2 separate regions of the Homo sapiens genome follow, and region 2 is linked to region 1. Evidence: fine-mapped expression QTL. A gene starts in region 1. The other region holds a variant in brackets. All regions are shown on one strand. Distances are from middle to middle. Region 1 holds the start of ADCY3 (adenylate cyclase 3). Region 2 overlaps ADCY3 (adenylate cyclase 3).

What was found.
Region 2: its variant is fine-mapped to the expression of ADCY3 in tibial artery (GTEx, PIP above 0.99). The same link has a PIP of 0.9 or more in whole blood.

What each region holds. Positions count from the first base shown.
Region 1 is chr2:24,918,882-24,921,780 of GRCh38, reverse strand. ADCY3 (adenylate cyclase 3) reads left to right here and starts at 1,544. Exons shown (of 22, transcript NM_004036.5): 1 at 1,544-2,098; 2 at 2,597-2,899. The coding sequence starts at 2,794. It overlaps LOC124907742 (a long non-coding RNA gene), which reads right to left and starts at 1,437. Exons shown (of 2, transcript XR_007086246.1): 1 at 1,209-1,437; 2 at 323-783. RefSeq lists silencers at 990-1,079, 1,090-1,299, 1,340-1,399, 1,430-2,159.
Region 2 is chr2:24,859,025-24,861,923 of GRCh38, reverse strand. All of the region lies in intron 3 of ADCY3 (adenylate cyclase 3), which reads left to right. Among named protein-coding and RNA genes, the nearest start is that of ADCY3, 60 kb to the left of the region's middle. The variant A/G (reference allele first, on the strand shown) is at 1,483.

The DNA.
Region 1 (2,899 bases):
AATGGGGCAGCCCAGAGCAGTGGCTCATCCCTGTAATCCCAGCACTTTGGGAGGCTGAGGTGGGCGGATCACTTGAGGTCAGGAGTTCAAGACCAGCCTAGCCAACATAGTGAAACCCCATCTACTAAAAATACAAAAATTACCCCGGGCTTGGTGGTGTGTGCCTGCAATCCCAGGTATTCAGGAGGCTGAGGCAGGAGAATTGCGTGAACCTGGGTGGTGGAGGTTGCAGTGAGCTGAGATCACAACACTGCACTCCAGCCTGGGTGACAGAGTGAGACTCAGTCTCGAAAAAATAAAAAATAGAAATAAAATAAAACAATGGGGCAAAGTTTTGCTTTATTTAAATTACCAAACTCCTATATCTGATGTTAGGTCCCCTACCTTTGGAATCAAAGCCCTGCGAAGTATGGGCTGAAGGTGGCGCCTTTTCAGACAGAGTGTGAGGGAACGGTAGAAACAGCAGTGGCAGGATCGATTCTCTAATGGATCCATTCCCCGAGGGATGCAAGGTGATGCCTGAGGTTCTGGAAGGGGTGCCCGCGGATAACTCTCAGGGGCATGGGGTGGCAGCTCCATCCAGGGTCTGGATAGCCAAGTTTCTCTCCCCTCTGTTCATTCCTTCAGCTCTCCCCAGGGGAGATGACCCCCTATTGCTGCTGGCTGTCCTCAGCACTTACCTTCCCACACATGCTTTTGTCCCTTTTGTCCCAAAACATTCTATCTCTTTCCTCTTCCTTTATTTAAATTCCCAAAGCCTGTAGTTGATCTTAGCACGGTGTTCTGTCAAATGCAAGGAAAATAATTTATACTATGGTGTAAGAGACTGATAGGTTTAACTATTCAAAGGAGCATTCGCATCTTTAAGGGACAGTTTGTGAACTCAAACACATCTCAAACGGGTAGAATGTGCACGGGAAATCTCTTCGAAGCAGGGTCTCAGGAACTCTTCCAGTTCCACGTGTGTAGTGCCCACCGGGCCACCGCCACCCGCCTCCTGGGAGCAGGACAGGGCTCCGCTGCCGAGCCCCTCTGCGGAAAGCTCAGGCCCGGCGCTCCGGAGTCTGGGCTCCCGGGGTGGGCGGGGATACTTAGGCCCCACGTGCCCCGCGGCGGAGCGGTCCCCAAACCTGAGCCCTGGCCTCTGCCGGCCCGGAAGGAAGCCGCGGCGGAGGAGGGGGCGGCGGGGTGCCCCGAGCGCGCCTCACCTGCGGGCGGGCGCGTCCCGGGCTTCCATCCTCCTAGACCGGGCCTCCTCGCTGGAAGGGGTGGATTCGCCCCAGCCCTGCCGCCCACCGCCCACCGCCCACGCCCGCGCCCGCGCCCGCGCTTCCACGCAGCCATCGCCCCAGCCCGCCGCCCGCGCCGGATCGGGGGCCGCCCGGGCCCCTCCACCTCTCGCCCGCGCGGGTCCTGGGACCGCCGCCCGGCGCCTCCCTCGCCGCCCCACTCCGGAACGCGCCGCCGAGAGGGCGGAGACTGGGGCGAGGGAGGGGCCGCCCCGCCCGCCTCCCGCCTCCCGCCTCCCGCCTCCCGGGGCCTGGAGCGCGCGTGGCCCCGGAGCCGCCGGCGCCGCGCGGGGAATAGCTGTGCAGCACGCCGAGCCCGGACTCGGCTGGCTCGGCTCGGCGCGGGCGGGCGAGAGGATGCTGGCGGGCTTCCCCGGGCTCGGCCCGCGCTCCCGCCGGGGAGGGCCCCGCGCGCGCCCCTAGCAGCCGCCGCCGCCGCGGGTGCAGGGGAGGGGTCCGGAGAGCCGCGCTCGCCGCCGCCCGCGCCTGCCGGCCCCCGCACGGCCCCTGCCCCTGAGCCTCAGCCCCAGGGCGGGCGCGCTGGGCCGGCGCCCACGGATCTCCCAGCCCTCGTCGCCGCCTCCTCCTTCCCCCTGCGGCCGGGCGCCCGCGGATGCTGAGGGGCAGCCCTGCGCCTCTCCCGGTCGGATCCCGGGCCTGACGGCGGGAGATCGCGCTCCGGCCGGGCCCCGAGGCGCTGCCGGGGCGGCGCGGCTCTGCGGGGAGCAGCCCTCGGGCGCGCCGAGCTCTCCCGCCCCAGCCCGCGCGGGGACCGTCCCGGAGCACGCGGTGGCCGAGTTCCCGCACAGGTAAACGCAGGGGCAGGGCCAGGCTTCCGGGGGGGAAGACAGCGCCCCGAGCGTGGGAAGGGGGCCGGATCGGAGCCCGAGCCTCCAAGGGTTTGGTGGAAAAAGGAAGTAAACAGAAGGAAGGCTCAGGAATCCCCCACGATGGTCCTGATTTCTTTCCGGCACATTTTATTTACAGCTTCTAAGGACTGGGCCTGGAGGGAATTTAGGTGAGGAAGTCGGGGACTGAGAAAGAAGAGATGACAGAGAGAAACCGGTTACCAGGGATGGAAAGGCGGCTAGGCCCTTCCACAAGCCAGGGACAGGAAATTGAGTGTCTGGCGTGGACAGGACTAAGTGTGCCTGCGGTGGGCGGTGGTGTGAGCCGGGGGTGGCAGGGAAGGCCCTGGGTTGGGAGGCTCTTGCAGCAGAGATCCTTTTATGAGGGTTAGGGCGGGTCATGGGGAAACCGCAAGGTAGGAGGGAAGAGGTGCTTCTACTCAGCAATGCCCTTTTCAGTTCTAGCTGATCAGTGCTACCTGTGCTCTGGAAACCCGCTCTGCGTTCCTGCTGGAGGTGGCCTCCCCTCCGCCCCAGACAAGAAGAGGCCCTCAGCCCTCCCCCGGTCTCAGAGAGCCCTGAGAGGAGGCCCAGTCCAGAGCTCTTCCTCCGTTCCCAGTCCACTTCTCTAGGGCCAGTAGCAGACACCAGCCAGTATGCCGAGGAACCAGGGCTTCTCCGAGCCCGAATACTCGGCCGAGTACTCAGCCGAGTACTCCGTCAGCCTGCCCTCCGACCCTGACCGCGGGGTGGGCCGGACCC
Region 2 (2,899 bases), 60 kb after region 1:
TCACATGAAATAAGGCAGAGGGGAGTCTAAAAACCATGAAGCCCTTTGGGGCTCCAAGATGCCGTCACGCTGGCCCCCAGCCCCTGGGGAGGCACCGGCTGAAGTCAGGGTGGTGAGGTAGGATGGGAGCTGGCTGGGGCCTGTGCATCCTTCCCCTTCTCTCTTCCAGCCAGGACAGAGGTCACTCCCTCCCAAGGCATTGGGGCTGACGTTGGGAGTGGCGTGGGCTCTGGGCTGATTTGACGTTTCAGAAACATCAGCTGACGGGTCTTCGGAGCTGAGTGCAGGCCGGTACTAGAGGCTGCATGACCCCGTTTCACTTTCCTCCTGTAAAAGCTCCTCATGAGAATAAAAATGAGATAATAGATGGAAAAACACTTTGGAAAGGGCCGCAGACAGTCCTGGTATGAGAGGAAACAGAACCTGGTTTGGAAGTGGCTCCAAAGAGCCATTTGAGGTCAGTGTCAGAGCAGGCCATCCCTTACTTACATGTGTGCTTAATGTCTTTTTTAAGAAAATTCTCCATTTAAAAAAATTATGAGTGTCTCCTATAAAAACAATCGTTAATCTACCCTCTGCAAAAAAGGGGCCTCCTTCCAGAATTGAGTGCCCAGGGTCCATGTCTCACTTTTTATTTGGTCAGGTGCTCTTATCTTTTTTTTTTTTTTTTTTTGAGATGGAGTCTCACTCTTTCGCCCAGGCTGGAGTGCAGTGGCACGATCTTGGCTCACTACAACCTCCACCTCCCAGGTTCAAGCGATTCTCCTGCCTGAGCCTCCCGTGTAGCTGGGACTACAGGTGCCCACCACCACACACAGCTAATTTTTGTATTTCTAGTACAGACGGGGTTTCACCATGTTGGCCAAGCTGGTCTCAAACTCCTGATCTCAAGTGATCTGCCTGCCTTGGCCTCCCAAAGTGCTGGGATTGCAGTCGTGAGCCCCATGCTCGGCTATTTATCTTGTTTTCTAAGCTGCCTTAAGAGTGTGCGGCTGAAGGGCAGCCCTGGCCATGTGGCTGTCCCAGCAGGTGTCTCCTCGCTGGGCCTCAGCTTCCTCCTCTGCTGTGAAGTGAGGTGTAGGGATGCGCTGGTGACCTGAGCCCGCTCTCTCTCTTGCCATCCCCTGGGAAGTTGTACCTTCTGTTATGAAGATGACCAGCCTCCTAATGACAGTCAACTCCCAGATGGGTGGGCAGCCAGCCATGGTCCAGGAGGGTGAGGCGGCACAGTCCCTCAAGCACAGGCATCCCTTTCTGCCTCCTCACTGGGGTGAGCATGTCCACATGTCAAAGGGTGCATTGAGGCAACAGAGCATTTGGGTAATGGCAAGGGTCTCAGATTCCAGTGGCTTTGCTGCTTTAACCTCCCTGGCTCCAGTCTCCTTCAGGGAGGTAGTGGAGCCTGCCCTGCCCTGAGGCCTTGTGGATTTGGAGCTCTTGGTGCAGCCCTGGCATGCGAAGCGTCCTCTTTGCCTCTGCCGA[A/G]CACATATCTGGCTTCGCAGGCAGTGCCATGGCGCTTCCCTGTGGTGCGGGGCCGCCAGGGTGCATGCTGACCTTGGTCCAGCCTCCCGGCTCTGTGGGCATGTGAGGGTAGAGCAGGAGGCCCAGAGGACAGAACTGGAGTTGTTTGTCTTTATTCCCATGTGACCACACTTCAGGGGTTAGTTGGGGACCTTGAGGGTTGCTAAGCACCCCAGCCGCCACCTGGCAACAGGCGGCACCCAGAAAACCCACTCAGCACACACCTGCTGCCAGGTGGAGCTACAAAACTGAGCCTCTCTGAATCATACTCAGAATCACTTCCCAGGGATCGGAACATGGTTGACGGAGGATGTGGGAAGATGGAGGGATGACAGGGGCAGGCCTATGCTTCCTTCACACGCGTCCTGTGTGGTTAACTGGCCCTGTGCCTGGTCCTCCCTCGGAGGTGAGGACTGTCCACAGTGCCCACCCTCAGACAGGAGGATGCTGCAGCCAGGGCACGTAGAGGGAGAGCCCAGGGCAGACTGCACAGGGTCTAGGGTAGAAAGCCATCCCCATCTTCACCCTTGGGATCCTGGGGAGACAGCTGAGGTGGACGCTGGGTGGGTTTCCATTCAGGTCTTGGGGGACTGCACAGAGACACAGCTGCCTCTCCCCACCTCTCCTTCTGCTTTAACCCACGTGCAGGGTCACCTGTTACTAGGGATGGTGTTTTTCCTTCATGCCGGTCTTACAGGGAAGAACCGCCCATTGACCACAAGCGTCAGGCCCCTCTCCTGGGAGCCCCGGAGCTTGGGACACTGGGAGGCTGCCATTTCCTAAGCTTGGATTGTATCTCTTGCTTTTCTGAATGTTCTTCCTCTGTAACCTTTGCCCAAGCCTGGTCACTGTTTCCCCCAAGACCTTTTGCTATTAGGACAAGGTGTCATCAACCCTGAGCCCTGTTCTTATAGGCGCTTGGTAGGGGAGAGGGGAGTCAGAGCCAGAGGCCAGTTGCCTCTTGGCCTGGGGTTGGGCTTCTAGTGCCAAGCCCCACCATGCCACTGTTATCCTGGCAACAGTGAGGTCGGGGCAGGGGGACCACTAAGAGTGGGAAGAGGAGACGAAGCTGGTGTCGAGTGGGAGGGCTGTGCCTCTGCCTGTGGATCCATAGCTGCTCTGCGTCTTGCTCGTTGCACCGTGGCTGCATCATGGCATTCTCCGCGTCTAATGTAATGGGTCAAATCCATTGTCTGCTTCACAGGAGACACACAGACACGTCCCCACCCCCAGCATCAGCCTTGCATTGTACTCGCTATCTTCTTCACAGAACCACCCACAAAGATATCTAATATTTTTAGTTTTTCTTTTAGCCTCGAATGCCTCTCAGTGTGAGAAAAGCCAGGTGCGTTCCCCATAATGCGAAGTAGGCACTGGT